Homo sapiens: one gene and its partner. The protein of the gene in region 1 purifies or fractionates together with the protein of each later gene. This does not show direct contact. Each region holds a gene or a part of one and is shown on either strand. Other genes may lie near its edges.

Evidence for each region.
Region 2: the proteins of GPR39 (region 1) and SLC39A12 purify together in Homo sapiens (co-immunoprecipitation; one large-scale study listed by IntAct). This does not show direct contact.

The regions. Positions count from the first base shown.
Region 1 is NC_000002.12:132,643,553-132,647,153, forward strand, and holds the end of GPR39 (G-protein coupled receptor 39), read left to right. Parts: exon of another isoform or gene 1-1,548; coding exon 1,549-2,054; 3' UTR 2,055-2,492; coding exon of another isoform or gene 2,493-2,728; 3' UTR 2,729-3,030; downstream 3,031-3,601. Other genes in the region: LYPD1 (ly6/PLAUR domain-containing protein 1), read right to left, coding at 2,493-2,728. UniProt on the Homo sapiens protein: Zinc-sensing receptor that can sense changes in extracellular Zn(2+), mediate Zn(2+) signal transmission, and participates in the regulation of numerous physiological processes including glucose homeostasis regulation, gastrointestinal mobility, hormone secretion and cell death.
Region 2 is NC_000010.11:17,954,876-17,958,698, forward strand, and holds part of SLC39A12 (zinc transporter ZIP12 isoform 1 precursor), read left to right. Parts: intron 1-3,823. UniProt on the Homo sapiens protein: Uniporter that promotes Zn(2+) import from the extracellular space to the cytoplasm across the cell membrane. The transport activity is temperature dependent. May play a role in neurulation and neurite extension.

The DNA of each region.
Region 1 (3,601 bases):
AGCCAGGCTGGAGTGCAGTGGCACATTCGTGTCTCACTGTAGCCTTCACCTCCTGGGCTCAAGTGATCCTCCCGCCTCAGCCCCCAAAAAGTATCTGAGACCACAGGTGTGTATGTACCACCATGCCTGGCTAAGTTTTTCTTTTTTTGTAGAGATGGGGTCTTGCTATGTTGCCTAGGTGGGTCTCAAATTTCTAGGCTTAAGTGATCCTTCTGCCTTGGCCTCCCAGAGTATTGAGATATCAGGCATGCGCCACCATGTCTGGCCCCCATTTATTAATAGAATATTTACCATGGGTCATAGGCAGGAAGCATTCATTGCCAACTGTCACTTCCCTAGGGTTTCTAGAAAATCAGAAGATTGAAAATGTGAGTAAATGTTTCTTACTACGATTGAAATGTAGGAGAGGAAGGAAGCATTTCTGAAAATGCAAATCCTGCTTTAAGGTAGCAGCTCTCTACAGGGGAATTTACTGTGGGTGTCTTGGCTCCTTACGAAAAGAGAGAGCAAATGCTTCACAGATCCCCTGATCTTCCTTTGTTCTTTTTTGCTTTTGTCACTGTAACTAAACTCTCATGATACCTGTGATTTCAGTTGTTTGTGGTCTATGTAGCATCTTTATCTCTGTCAGTCAGAATTGCAGAACTGGTGGTGGTTACTTAAGTTGGAATACAAATATGTGGGCATGCAAACAAATGTACATGCAGTAAACATTTGATCTACAGAAGGGCCTTTGAGTGGTCTCTTCTCTAGGGCCTGATTGCTTCTGGGCTGTTGACAGCACAGCTCAGTGCTGCAAAGGAAGGGAACATGTTACTGGCTGAACTAGAAGGAAGTTTTATATTTGCCATCTCTGAATAATTCTTTTTCCCCACATGAGGGATCTAAAAGTGTCTGAAAAGAAACACATATGCTGTTGCAGATATGAGCATCATGATTATAGGTGTGCATACCTAGTATGTATATGTCCAAAAAACATTCTTGGCGACAGGCTATTCCTGACTTTGCTTCCCCTGAAACTGAATGCAAAACCAGTGTCATTAAATATGCTGCTTTGTTGCCAAAGGGACACTTCTTCCATTTGATTTAAAAATATCACTAGGTCTTCTTTGTGCAGACATCCTTTAAAATACAAACACTGCTTTATCTAATGCAGCTATACTGTATGTATACATCTTTTTCTTTAAAACAAAAAAAGACAAAACCAGATTTATGGATAACATGAACTGCTTTCTGGATACGCAAACAAACACCAATGAAAACATTTTTTTAAAATTAACAGACATCAACTGGTATAAATACACTGTCTAAAGCATTTAATGGTCTTTCTTTAACACAGCCAACTCCCCCGGGTTTGAAACAGTGTTAAATTCTCTCTTGCTTGTGGCAAAAGAAGCTGTCAAGTCCAACACTGAAAAATTGGTACCATTTCCTGGCCAGTAAGCACAGAACAGAGGGGCTAAATATTTTATGGTTTTATTCATTTACTGTGTTCTCATGCTGTGTTTTTCTTTTCTCTGTCTCTCCCTCCTGCTCGTGTCTGCCCAGGGCTGATTGTTGTGACATTGGCCGTATGCTGGATGCCCAACCAGATTCGGAGGATCATGGCTGCGGCCAAACCCAAGCACGACTGGACGAGGTCCTACTTCCGGGCGTACATGATCCTCCTCCCCTTCTCGGAGACGTTTTTCTACCTCAGCTCGGTCATCAACCCGCTCCTGTACACGGTGTCCTCGCAGCAGTTTCGGCGGGTGTTCGTGCAGGTGCTGTGCTGCCGCCTGTCGCTGCAGCACGCCAACCACGAGAAGCGCCTGCGCGTACATGCGCACTCCACCACCGACAGCGCCCGCTTTGTGCAGCGCCCGTTGCTCTTCGCGTCCCGGCGCCAGTCCTCTGCAAGGAGAACTGAGAAGATTTTCTTAAGCACTTTTCAGAGCGAGGCCGAGCCCCAGTCTAAGTCCCAGTCATTGAGTCTCGAGTCACTAGAGCCCAACTCAGGCGCGAAACCAGCCAATTCTGCTGCAGAGAATGGTTTTCAGGAGCATGAAGTTTGAATGTCAAGCGAGGGAGCCTTGAGTGGGAACTGGCCCTCCAGCCCTAAGAAAACGTCACTCTCACTCTGCAGTCTCAAACTATGCCCCCATCAGGGATGGAATGGACACTGGAGGCTTTACAAAAGGCAGATGCCCACCTCAGTGACTTCTAAGGACTGACTCTGCCAGCCTGGCCTTGACTCCGGTTACACAGACATGGGGGTGAACTTTCACTCCACCTCCTTCCTTCAAGTACATACTGAAAATTCAGTCAGGCTGAATTTATTCAGAATGCTTTACCGAGCTCTTTCATTATTTGCACAGGAACAAAAGAGAACACGGACTCCCGCTCCCTACCCAGAATAAAAGGACACCCAGAAGAAACTCACTCAGGGAGGTGGGGGGTTGGGGGCGAGGGCTGGAAGAACAATGCAGGAGGGGGTGGCATCTCCTTCAGCTTCAGCAGTGTGCCGAGAAGAGGGCTAATTTGAGGAACAGGATGGTGGTGCGGAGCCCTGGCCTGAGGGCCGAGGCAGAACTTCCCCTTTTCTTGGGCCTTGGCCCGTTACAAAGAGGGGTGTTGCAGCAGCTGATGCAAACTGAGTTCAGTTTCCCTGGGGAGCAGAAGGACTGGTACCCGGCAGAGGCGATGAGACAGGCCGCTGATGATGCACAGGACTTGCGGTACATGATCCCTGTAACACAGACCCAAAGGAGCTGAGTTAACGTGCACCGGCAAAAGAATAGCTGTCCCTCTCAGCCCAAATCCAAACGGACAGCTCTTCCTTACTCCTCCCACAGCCCAGAGACTAGGTGAGGTCAGGGAAGTGCTTCGGATTGTCTCATTGATATTCAAGATAGATGGTGAAAGAGACAGGCACTATTTCATTAGTTTTAACAAAACTGTTCCAAAAGCGATTTGAGATGCCAATACCTGTGAATACCTGTTAATAAAGAGCTGTTAAATAGACTTATTTACATTTTAAGTCAGAGTTCACACTGTGTACAAGACACAGCTTTTTATTTACTTTGTTTTTGGTTCAAACTGTCTCATGCCAGTGAGGCCCACAAGCAGTGCTTCTAGATTTTATCTCATTTTGCTTTATAAGCGGCCACAGAGCGCTGGCTCTCAACTATGTGTTGATGAAATCCTGGAGTTCTTTGAAGACAGACCAAATCCCGAAGGGAAATAAATGTATCCCTACTGAATGGGCCCTGAGTTTTCCACGGGATTTAGTGAAGGGGCACCTGGCTGACCGTGTGTCCCTCACAGTCTTATTCTAAGGAGAAACGCTCTGTCGTCAGGACACATGGCCATCTGCCAAGCCAGTACCACGCAGCTAGCACTCAATGACACACACTGGGTGCAAAAAAAAGCTTCCCAAGAAGACTAGGGGGCCTGTCTCAAAGAGCATGTGTGTCCTGTCAAGCTGCAGTATAGTCAGTCATCAAATTAGGGTGTCTTAATCATAAGGTGGAAGTTTATTCAATTCAAATAATACTAGCTAAACTTTTATTTAAGGGCTTCCCTGTCTGTCTCCCAGGCACTATTCAGACACCCTTAGCGT
Region 2 (3,823 bases), on another chromosome or scaffold:
CAGAAGAGTTCTTGCTCATAGAGAATTTTTCTCTGCTTTGTGTGAGCAATAAATAATTCAATAATTATTAAAATACCCAATGGTTCCCAGAGGAAATGTGTTATAATAGGCAACTCATCTGTGATGACATTAATATATATAGATGGCAACACAAGATGTCCCACTGGAAATAACCAGAAGTCATCTCTTATTCATGTCCTCTGAGGATTCGCTTCAGGGGAATGTTCTCCTTTAATGACGTGAAGTGCCTTATTAAGGCTGGTTGAATAGTAGTTTTGCCAGGGGGGAAGGTAAATATGCAAAATTGTTCTCCATTTTCAGGGCTGGGGGAAGGATTGTTTAGCACTTACTGTTTTCTGTGACAGTATCAGGAGTTTAGCCAATTTGGTCCCCATTTGAATCAGTTCCATTCCTAGGACTTGAAACACCATCTTAAATAGCTTCACCCTCCTTCTCTGTGAAAGAAAGGCAGGTGAAGCAGAAGTGAGTCTCAGCTTTACCTACTCAGAAGGCTTCAGTTCACCCCAATCACCCATCAGGAAGGAGCTTAGGAAATGTCTCCCATCATTCATGAAAAGAGGGAGGAAACAGAGTCCTCTGAATTTCACAAACACGCGGGTTCTGGCGCGAACCACAGAGCTTCAGCTTGTGGCCGAGTCTGTTCTGTCATCTGAGGGACTTTGTCTGCTGACAGGCAGGGTTCATGCTACAAATTCTATCGTAAAAAGAGAGGTTAAGGGGGTTTCTTCATATCCCTAAATGTCTGAAAAAAGAGGGAAGTAGGTATCTTGAATTTGTTGGGAGTAAAAATGCTTCCAATTTTACGTCTGTATAAAAAGTGAATTTTTTAAAAAGCCAATGTGAAGTATCTGAGAGCATTGCACATTTAAAATAAATTCAGTCAAGCTGCAGTCTTTGAAAATGAATAGTTCTGGGCTGATCCTGGCTTTTTCTTTCTTTAATGAGAAGGGGTAGAATATAGTTTTAATGAACATCGTGAGAGATTAAATAACTCCAAAACAATACATTCTACTTCAATAATTATGAGAACCATAACCCTACACATGTTTCTGAAAGGAAAAGGGCCCTTTTCTGGCACCTTCTAGTGTTGAGACATGTGGAGCCTCAGCTTCCTCACCCTGAAGGCTGGGATAATGAGCCCCTCCTCAGGGAGGTCTGTGAGGACCACATGGACAAACACATGTTCCTCAGGCGCCAGATGTCTGTGAGGGTCAAATGGATATATATGTGCCCCTGAGGGAGATATCTGTGAAAATCACACGGACATGTGTGCTCCCCGGGGAGATCTCTGCAAGGATCACATGGACACATATGCCCTCAGGGATCAAATCTCTGAGAATCATGTGGACATAGATGTATTATGTCCCAGGAAGATCTCTGTGGATCTCATGGACATGTGCTCCTCAGGGAGATCTCTGTGGGGATCCCATGGACATACATGTTCTTAGGAATCAGATCTCTGAGGATCTCATGGACATACATGTACTTCTTAGGAATCAGATCTCTGAGGATCTCATGGATATACATGTTCTCCTTAGGAATCAGATCTCTGAGGATCTCATGGACATACATGTTCTCCTTAGGAATCAGATCTCTCAGGATCTCATGGACACATATGCAGAAAGTCAGATATAGGAGCTCAAGTTCCTTCTGTTCCCTGTGCCTCACAGCAATGTCTGATTCCTCCTTTTCCAGGGACACTAGAGCAGCGCCATTCCTCAGAATCTCCCACCCACCTGTGTCCCAGGCTCCCCTCCACTGTCCTTGATTCTGAGGATTTTAAACGAAGTTCTCCAGGCAATTCTTAGACACATTCAAAGCAGAGAACCACTGCTTTAAGGGTCTCCATTTAATTCACACCTGGCCCTAGCCCCTGACATAACTGTCATGGAATAAAGTGTGGAAAACACCCAGCTTTGTCTTATTATCTAACAATTTCATCTTAACTCTTCTCAGTTAAAAACTTCTTGTCAGTCAGAAGACCCACTAAATCTAGTACAGACCCTAAAGAGCCAGTACCTGCCATCGGCAACATCCTTCCAGCTCTTTGTCAGGAAAAAAACACATACACGTTCTCTCTTATATTTACAATCAATTGTTAGCCACCCCCCACCTCCGGAAAAGAAAAAAACACCTTATAGAAACCTGAGAACTTAAAAGAGACTGTCTTCTTTTAAGTTCTCAAGTTTCTATAATATAAAATTTCCCATTGTTTAAAATCAAATGTTAAACATCTTTCAGTCTAAAACCCCTAAAGTTTATCCTGGAGGCCTGACAGCTGTCTTACTGATGTAGGAGAAGACAGCTACCAAGTTGTTTTTTGTCAGCTGAGGCTCTCACCTGGCATAGATCATAAGCAAAGCTGAATTTCAAGGCTGGGTGAGACCATGTGATGTGGCTCCAGGATGTGGTGGACAATTACTACCAAGTGTCCGAGTAGCCTGTTTAGCTTGAAAGGGGAGCCTCTCCTTGCATTTTAATCAGTCTTTTCCCAAAGTTTATTTCCTTATAAAGTCATTAAAACTAATTCCCAGAATTTATGAGATTCCCCCCGCCCCAAACCTTTTTCCCCCACCTGACAAGATTAAAAGGAAAATCAATGGATTATTCCTGAATGAGTCCATTCTTCTTAAACAAAGAATTGCTTCACCAGAGGCAGCAGCCTTGGACAGATCTTGATGCCTGTGGGGTGGCAGTATTTGCGACATTTTGCTAAATATCCTCTCCCAAACACAACTGAGCCAACTTCTAAAAACATTAACAACAAAACAAATCTAGTGGCGTCGAACTGAAAATTCCAGCTCTGTCCTCATCCAACAGCCCCAGTAGAGCTTTTTGTCATATCTATGTCCAGGGGAAGAATTCTTATTTTATGTTAGCTTTTCTGAGGCTTCCACCTGTATTCTTTCCTCAAGCCACAGCCTTCTGTATTAAAATAAATTCTTTACGATTCAAATATTATAAAAGGGAGGAAGGTTTCCAGCCCGTGGTCATTTGATTCACAATTAAGCTTTGATTTAGCAGGCCTCAAAAAATCAAAGCAAATGTGATGCAACACGTGTTCATTCAAGGTTACCAAAATCTCTGTTCCGACAAAAGAAGATGCTTCTACAGCTGTTTCAAGCTTTCCAAAGCCAGAAACCAATTGTACCTTCCATATTGTATGCCTTTTATACACAGTTGTGGAATGCCTACCCACACGATTATAGTGCGGACCCTGCTCTCTGCTGTTCCGTGCCTTGCATTCCAATTCCAACCCTGGAAAGATACATGGCAAAGACACTGAGGAAGAATGATGCATGGACAGGAGTCTCCGCATCTCAGATGGGTTGAAATATGGTCACATGTTCTGCCATGTGCTCATACACCAAGCCCTGCCCTGGTCTCATGGCCCCATGAGCGTCCTACTCCTTGCATCATAGACATTCTTCTTCCTACCTACCCAGCCCCATCAAACAACCTGAGTAGCACTTGAAAGTATAACATAAACTCATTCAACGCTCTCGTTGTACCATGTCCTTGTTCTGATTGATGTTAGACTTGGACCAATCTCTTAGCCACCTAACTGACCTCTACTCCCATCAAATAGGAGGGAGAGAAAAATTACCGGTCAAAGTGGTTGCCTAACAAGTACATCAGTGGGTCCACAGCCTGTGTTCTCCATGGCACAAAAGGAAGGAATAAAAGAATGGGTCCTGTTCTTCGAAGAGCAGGAATTGTGACTAACAGTGCTCTCCACCATCAGCTGTGTAGCTTTGGGCAAGTTTCTTATCCGCTTTAGTCTTGGTTTTCACACATTCTA